Regions from separate parts of the Homo sapiens genome. Here region 1 is linked to region 2. Evidence: fine-mapped expression QTL. A gene starts in region 2. The other region holds a variant in brackets. All regions are shown on one strand. Distances are between the middles of the regions. Region 1 has its middle 100 kb from the start of CDK15. Region 2 holds the start of FZD7 (frizzled class receptor 7).

Region 1 (4,384 bases), 130 kb before region 2:
ATTGCTCTGGTCTGCAACATAGGCACAGGACTTTTTTAAGCTCCCCATATTATTCTAATGTGTAGCCAGGGCTGATAATCACTGCTCCACCCGGAAGCCAGTGTTCTCTTGCTAAAAAACAAATCAGATGATGTCACTATCCCCCCTAAAAAAATCTCTATCAGTCATAGGATAAATTCTGAACCAGCTCTTCAGCATGGCCCCAACTGAGTACTCCAGCTGGCTCCATCAGCCTCCAGGCTCACTCGCTTCCTCTACACTCAGCCACGTGGAATTTCTCAGTATTCCCTGAATGCAGTATTCTGTTCACATCCCTAGCTTTTTGCACTTTCTGTCCCCTCTGCTTAGAATGCCCTCTTCCATCCTCTCTGCCTGGTGAACTCTTATCCCTCAATGCTCAGCTGAAAGGTCCTCCAGCCCAGGGTGAGTTGCTCTCTTCTCTGGGATCCCAGAGCACTCTGTTGCTATGTACATCATAGTATTGGTCCCATTTCATTGCAATTATTAGTTGACACTTCTTTCTTCTTCTTCTTCTTCTTTTTTTTTTTTTTTTGAGATGGAGTTTCACTCTTGTTGCCCAGGCTGGAGTGCAATGGCATGATCTCAGCTCACTGCAACCTCTGCCTCCCGGGTTCAAGTGATTCCCCTGCCTCAGCCTCCCGAGTAGCTGAGATTACAGGCATGTGCCTCCATGCCAGGCTAATTTTGTATTTTTAGTAGAGACAGGGTTTCTCCATGTTGGTCAGGCTGGTCTTGAACTCCCAACCTCAGGTGATCCGCCCGCCCCGGCCTCCCAAAGTGCTGGGATTACAGGCATGAGCCACCACATCCAGCCTTCTTTATCCTTTTTAAAAACTGACAGCGTTAGGAGATTAGAAGAATGCTTAGCTTTTTAATTTTATCCCCAGTGTCTAGTGTAAGTTGGACATTGAGAAGATGTTCAATCAATGTTGGTTAAGCGAATGAATTGGAAACACCACCACTTGCTGCCTTCCACTGAGATCAAATCATGGTGCCATTTTGCTTTTCTTTCCAGAATCAGTAAAGATCATATATCTCATATCATACACATATGACTTAGTAATCACATACCACAAACACGTGATTAGGAGCCAACCAGATCAAGTCTGTCACTTGCTGACCTTGGTTTTCTAATCTTTAAAATAAGGTCAATAATGCCTATTTTGTAGAGTGAGTGTGAAGATTCATTGTATAACACCCAGCAGCATGCCTGACACAGACTAGGCACTAAATAAATTAAAATGTTTATTATAATAATAAGTAAATAAAACTCACTGAAAAGAAAGTTAAACTGAGCAGCACTTCTGTTTATACATCTGTTTCTCTCTTCAGTGTGAGCTGCTGAAAGGCAAAAGCTGTCTTATTTATCCGTGTGTTCCCTGGGGCGGGGAACACAGTAGGCATTCATTAATTAATTCGGTCGCTCATTCACCAAGCATTTATTAAGCTAATGAATGAAATGAATAATATTTGGGTTAGAATGATGGCTTGCTGTTTGGGGCACAGAGAGACTCACACATTTGTCTGTCTTACAAAACAGAGAATCACAAGTTTGGCCACTGGAAGGTGTCTCAGAAATCATTTTTAAAGGTTCTCATTTACAGGTGAGAAAAGGGAGATAACTAACCAGGAAAGCCATTTTAATTTCAATATTGAGGATAACATTTCTAGGTTGGGAGTGGATGCTGACCAAGTAGGAAAGCAAGTTCACATTTGTAAAAGTTCTTGGGTGGGTGATACTTAACTAGGACAGTGCTTGGTTTTTCATGGTGAGAAACTGGGCAGTTGAGAAGAATTTTAACAAAAATCATCAGAGGCACTTTTGAGTATTGTCAATTCCATATTATATACTTTATCTGGTGGAAAATAAAGCACCTTCTACCCAACGTGCATGTAAATTTATGTTGCTCTGTCCTTTTAAAGGGCAGGTAGAAGGCAAAATGTAGGTCATTTAACAGGTGTCGTTCCAGGCAACAACAAAGAACAGATAAAAAAGCATGTAGCAGATGTAGTCGTGTAAATAAGCCTCTTTTTAAAAATGAATCACCACATGTCCCCAAGATCAGAATCACTCCCGGGAACCTGGTGTGGAGTCTCCCAGATGCAGAAGAAAGAGGAATGAATGAATGAATGAATGAATGAATGATCCAGACCAGCCAGAGACTAAACTGCAAGCAACGTTAGGTTTCCCTGTGACCATTCAGACTTAATGTGACTCTATGAGAAAGCACTGTTGCAGGCCGGGGATTGGCAGGCAGCCCCGGCCCCCAGCCTCAGATAACAAGCTGCTCTCCAAGAACACGTGCTAGGAAAAGTGCTTGATCAGAGTGTCAGCTTGTGGACTGAGTAGGAACACTAAGTGGTTTTGTCTGTCACCTCCTTCACCCCAGCTGGAATTTGGCCATAATCTGAT[A/G]GAAACACTTTGCCCACTTTCAGGAGAATTTTCCACTATCAGTAAGGCTGCTTTTTCATACTTCGGCTATCACCAAAGCCTTTCAGAACACTTGTACTACTATCGCCCAGGGGAGCTTATATGTCTCAAGGGTAGGGGGTGGGGGACCAAAACCATTCTGAGCATGGAACACTCAGTTGATTCAGGTTTCATCCATGTTGAATTTCAGTCCCTGTTTCCTGAGGACTAGACTGTACTAGATGCTGTCCTGGAATCATGTCTTCATTAGTCCCCTGGGCCACATGACCGGTGAGTGAGTAAGCTGGGCTTCAAACTCAAATCCAGCCCCTGAGGTTTCAATGTCCATACTTGAACGTCTACTCGTGATGTCTTCATGTCACTGTGAAGAGGACTGACAGGGCTTCAGAAGCTGCTGCGTGGGAAAGGGTTAAAAGTGTCAGAGTGCCTGGGTTCAGATCCTGACTCCACAGCTTTGTAGCTGAATGCCTTTCGGCAGGTTACTTAACCTCATTAAGCCTCAACTTCCTCATCTGTAAGAATGGGTCCAGCAATAGTACCTGCCTGTAAGGGGGTTATCATGAGGCTTGAAAGGGTTTGACTCATGACAACTGTATAATAAATGATAGTTACTAGTATTGTCATACACATCACAAATACAATCAACATTATGGATTTACTCCCATCTAGGCATGAATAGTCGTGTGTTTATGTGTACACAATGTGACAAAGAAGAAACACAATAGCCACAATTTATCGGGCACTTATTATATGTCAGGTAGTAGAATAGGGGTTCTGCACACATAACCTCATGCTTTTCATATATATGACCTGATTTATTCCTCATAGCCATCTGTGAAGTAGTTAATATTATTTTTATTATTATTATATATTTTTTTGAGACAGTCTTGCTCTGTTTCCCAGGCTGCAGTGCAGTGGTGCGATCTCGGCACACCACAACCTCCGCCTCTCGGGTTCAAGTGATTCTCATGCCTCAGCCTCCCTAGTAGCTGGGACTACAGGCGTGCGCCACCACACCCAGCTAATTTTTTGGTATTTTTAGTAGAGACAGGGTTTCACCACGTTGGCCAGGCTGTTCTTGAACTCCTGACCTCAGGTGATCCGCCCACCTCAGCATCCCAAAGTGTTGGGATTACAGGCGTGAGCCACCATGCCCAGCCAGTAGTTAATATTATAATCCTCCCTTTCAGATGAAGAAAATGAAGCTCGCCAGGCACAGTGGCTCACGCCTGTAATCCCAGCAGTTTGGGAGGCCGAGGCAGGCAGATCACTTGAGGTCAGGAGTTCAAGACCATCCTGGCCAATATGTTGAAACCCCATCTCTACTAAAAATACAAAAATTAGCTGGGCATGGTGGCACATGCTTGTAGTCCTAGCTACTCTGGAAGTTGAGGCAGGAGAATCACTTGAACCTGGTAGGTGGAGGTTGCAGTGAGCTGTGACAGTGCCACTGCACTCCAGCCTGGGTGACAGAGTGAGATTCCATCTCAAAAAAAAAAAATAAAAGAAAATAAAAGAAAAAAGAAAATGAAGCTTACACAAGTTAAGTGACTTGCTTGGAGTCACACAGTTGATATTATATATGGTGATGCTGAGCTTAGATTCCAGAACTGCTTTGAGAGCCTATGCTTCTAATCACTATTCTACAGTGTCTCTCTGAGGCAATAGGCTTAAAAAAATAGATTCCAAAAATTGCTGCTTTCAAACGTGTTGTCTTTTAAAGAAATCTCTTTGAAAAGTGCCAGCTTACCCCATCAATACTGCCATTGTTCAGGCTCTTTGGCCTTCAGAACCATACACAATCCTCACGAGAAAATGAGTCTCAATTTTATCATCCTCATCTTTTAATCTAAAATGGTATTACTTAACTTGATCATGCACCTTATTCCCCGGACTTTGATCTAAATGAATTTTAGCTGTTAAAAATCAAAT
Region 2 (4,327 bases):
TTTCTTCCTCAATAAGCAAAGATGACTTAGATCAGTGGCCTGATGAATAAGCATGAAATTTTGATTTAGAAAAGGAGGATATCCTGAAGCTCATGGAGAGAAAAAAGGAATCTAACCCCCCACCACACATACTTTAAATGACAAAGCAAAGCAGCAGCATTGTCTTTAAGCAACATATTTCAACCGAAGATCAACACTCCCCGATGTTAGGTAATAGAAATAATAATTTAGAAAGAAAAGGGGGGCCCTTTTAAAAACACAAAGAAGGAATGAAACATTTTTAAAGCAGGTATCGTATTACCTTCAGCACATGTCCCAAAGAAAAGGAAAAAAAGGGTGGGGGGGTCCGGGAGGGAGGGCGAAACTGATGCTTGGGAGGAAGAAGGCGACTCCCGCTGAGGGCCGGATGGAGGATGTGATCAGTCTAACACTCTGCCTTGGCCCAAAGGCTTCCTTCCGCCCTTTCGACCTATTAACAGGAGTGGGGAAGGACAAAGAACCGTGAATCGGAAAGAACGATTCCCAGCAATCTTCAGTGATCGAAAATAAATAAAGAAAAACAGAGAAAGCCAAAGTCTCCCATGGAAGGGAACCCAATTAATTGTCTTCGATTTCAGAATGAGTTTTTTTCCTGCTGTAGAAGAAGCGCACGGGAGGCAGCAGAGACAGCAACTTCTGCCAAGGTTCAACCTGATCAGAAATCGCTCAGAGCTCCAGCACCCGGGACTGAGGCAGAAGGGCTCCGCCAGGAATAACGTTTTTTAAAGCACAGGATTGCTGTGTGTGTGTGTGTGTGTGTGTGTGTGTGAGAGAGAGAGAGAGAGAGACAGAGGAAAGAGGAGGAGGAGGAGAGATTGATTGATTGATTTTTTTCTTTTCCTTCTCAACATGTCACTTTCCTGCATGGGAATTCCTGATATTCCTGGCAGCCCGGAGAGAGGGGAGAGGCCCCCTGGTGACTTATGACCCCCGCAGGAGTAACCAGAGAGCGCGCGCGAGCGCCCAGCGCCTGGCTCAAGACGAAGATTTAACCGAGAACAAAAGAACGTTTGCCAATCAGAAAACGCTACCCGAGAACGAGGATAACCCCGCTTTGTGTTTTGAAAACTCTTTAATTAGCCTGGTTTCTAAGACGCATTAAAACATTCCTACGCAGATTCTAAATGGAGGATCAAATGGTTGCTTCTGCAACGAAGATGGGATCCCGAAAGGGCACACGCCGCAGAACCAAGGCACACGGGGCCACTGAGACGCCCGGCGCGTCGTACAGAGTGTTCCTGGGCGCTCGGTCTCAGGTTACTTCTAGAACCAGTCTCCCCAACGCCGTCTTCGTTTCCTTAAAACCTCGCTAGAGTCACCCCAGTTCCCCAGACTCCAGGCCGTGCGCGCGGGCGGGGTGGCCTGAGCCCGGGTTCCCCGCTCTCCCTGCTTCGGGCCCTTCCTCCGAGGGGTCCTTCCTCCCGCCGTCACTCGGCCCCCTCCGCCCGACTCGGGTTTCTCCTCGGAGGCGGCCCCTCCTCCTTTTTATAACTCGGGGGAGGGGAGAGGGGACTGTGGCCTCGCGTGGACTCTTTGGGTCCGGGGGGAAAGAGGCGATCCGCAAGGCGCACCCCCTTCTCGTCCCGTCCCAAACCCCACATTGAGGACCCGGCGACCCGAAAGCCCCGCCAGAGCCAGCCTTTGCAGTCCTAACGCGACTCCTGGTCACGTCTCTCCCCGAAGGGGCGCTGCGCGGTCCTCGCTCCCCTCAAACGCCGCTGGCGAAGGCGCCCCTGCTCAGGAATGCGCATCTGAGTGCACCAGGAAGAGGAACAAATCTTTGAAGCAAATTCCCTTTCTGCGCGTTTTCGTCCCTGAGCGAATTCAGGGTAAAAGTTTTTCCGAACTTTTCCCTCCCAGTCCCCCGCCCCTCCCCTCAGGAATCCGCCCAGAGCGCCGCGGACACCGCCTCCGCCACTCCCGCGCCCGCCCCTTCCGACTTCCGCCCAATCCGAAGGCGGCCACCGAAAAAACAAAGGCCGCCATTGGGCCGCCGGGGCCTGGGGCCGCCCCCGGAGTGGTTTGTGAATGGGGGGGGAGGGGAGGGGAGGGGAGGGGACGGGAGGGGACGGGAGGGGGCGGGCCGGCCCGGAACCCCGCGAGCCCGACGCTTCTTCTGGCGACCAGCGCGACTCCGAGGCGTTAGTCGGCGCTCACTCCCGGCGGGCGGCGGCGGCGGCGGCGGCGGCGGGCGCCAGGACTCGCTGCTGGGGCTGCGAGGGGCTGGAGGGGCCGGGGCCAGGCCGCGGGCACGAGCGCCTCGCGGTTTCGGACGCAGTGTGACTGGGTTTCCAAAAAGAACTCGCCGTGCTCCCGACTCCGGGGCCGAGATCGGACTCAGCAAGAGCCGGCCGTTTGGCTGAAACTTGGGGCCGAGCTTTTGGGGCTGAAGAAGGAGCGGGGTGTGGAGGAGGAGGCGAAGGAGGCGGCGACGAGCGGAGCCTCGAGGCCAGGAGGCGGGGCAGCACCGCGGAGGCGGCGGCCGGGGCGAGCGAGCGGCGGCGGCAGGGGTTCTCCTAGCGGGGACCGGACCAGGCGCGGGGGGCGTGCGCGCTGCGGTGCGCCGGGGGTCCAGAGTCTTGGGCAAACTTTGAAGGGTGCCGGAGCCGCTTGTTGCTCCTCGCGGCGGAGGGAGCCGCACCGTTACGTCCCCGCGGGGAGAGCGAGGCGGCCCTCCTCGGCGCCCCCAACCCAGGCTGACGAGTTTTGGGCCCCCGGCGGCCCTGCGAGTGCAGGGCGGCGGCGTCTGCGGCGCCTTCGCGGCGCGGGCACCCAGGCGGCAGCGCCCTTTGCTCCACGCCGCCCACGGCCCGGCCCCGGCGCCGTGAGGACTCTCATGCGTCGGGCGCGGCGGCGCCTCCCCGCATCCAAGCCTCTCCCAACCGCCTCGTCGCACTCCTCAGGCTGAGAGCACCGCTGCACTCGCGGCCGGCGATGCGGGACCCCGGCGCGGCCGCTCCGCTTTCGTCCCTGGGCCTCTGTGCCCTGGTGCTGGCGCTGCTGGGCGCACTGTCCGCGGGCGCCGGGGCGCAGCCGTACCACGGAGAGAAGGGCATCTCCGTGCCGGACCACGGCTTCTGCCAGCCCATCTCCATCCCGCTGTGCACGGACATCGCCTACAACCAGACCATCCTGCCCAACCTGCTGGGCCACACGAACCAAGAGGACGCGGGCCTCGAGGTGCACCAGTTCTACCCGCTGGTGAAGGTGCAGTGTTCTCCCGAACTCCGCTTTTTCTTATGCTCCATGTATGCGCCCGTGTGCACCGTGCTCGATCAGGCCATCCCGCCGTGTCGTTCTCTGTGCGAGCGCGCCCGCCAGGGCTGCGAGGCGCTCATGAACAAGTTCGGCTTCCAGTGGCCCGAGCGGCTGCGCTGCGAGAACTTCCCGGTGCACGGTGCGGGCGAGATCTGCGTGGGCCAGAACACGTCGGACGGCTCCGGGGGCCCAGGCGGCGGCCCCACTGCCTACCCTACCGCGCCCTACCTGCCGGACCTGCCCTTCACCGCGCTGCCCCCGGGGGCCTCAGATGGCAGGGGGCGTCCCGCCTTCCCCTTCTCATGCCCCCGTCAGCTCAAGGTGCCCCCGTACCTGGGCTACCGCTTCCTGGGTGAGCGCGATTGTGGCGCCCCGTGCGAACCGGGCCGTGCCAACGGCCTGATGTACTTTAAGGAGGAGGAGAGGCGCTTCGCCCGCCTCTGGGTGGGCGTGTGGTCCGTGCTGTGCTGCGCCTCGACGCTCTTTACCGTTCTCACCTACCTGGTGGACATGCGGCGCTTCAGCTACCCAGAGCGGCCCATCATCTTCCTGTCGGGCTGCTACTTCATGGTGGCCGTGGCGCACGTGGCCGGCTTCCTTCTAGAGGACCGCGCCGTGTGCGTGGAGCGCTTCTCGGACGATGGCTACCGCACGGTGGCGCAGGGCACCAAGAAGGAGGGCTGCACCATCCTCTTCATGGTGCTCTACTTCTTCGGCATGGCCAGCTCCATCTGGTGGGTCATTCTGTCTCTCACTTGGTTCCTGGCGGCCGGCATGAAGTGGGGCCACGAGGCCATCGAGGCCAACTCGCAGTACTTCCACCTGGCCGCGTGGGCCGTGCCCGCCGTCAAGACCATCACTATCCTGGCCATGGGCCAGGTAGACGGGGACCTGCTGAGCGGGGTGTGCTACGTTGGCCTCTCCAGTGTGGACGCGCTGCGGGGCTTCGTGCTGGCGCCTCTGTTCGTCTACCTCTTCATAGGCACGTCCTTCTTGCTGGCCGGCTTCGTGTCCCTCTTCCGTATCCGCA

The links. PIP is the estimated chance that this variant, and not a neighbour inherited with it, causes the effect. A credible set is the group of variants that fine-mapping cannot tell apart.
Region 1: its variant is the best candidate, but not a certain one, in a credible set for the expression of FZD7 in blood mononuclear cells (TOPMed, PIP 0.62).

What each region holds. Positions count from the first base shown.
Region 1 is chr2:201,904,965-201,909,348 of GRCh38, forward strand. No RefSeq gene overlaps it. Among named protein-coding and RNA genes, the nearest start is that of CDK15, 100 kb to the left of the region's middle. The variant A/G (reference allele first, on the strand shown) is at 2,435.
Region 2 is chr2:202,031,675-202,036,001 of GRCh38, forward strand. FZD7 (frizzled class receptor 7) reads left to right here and starts at 2,181. Exons shown (of 1, transcript NM_003507.2): 1 at 2,181-4,327. The coding sequence starts at 2,974. RefSeq lists silencers at 1,763-2,312, 2,423-2,502 and enhancers at 3,065-3,905, 3,103-3,222.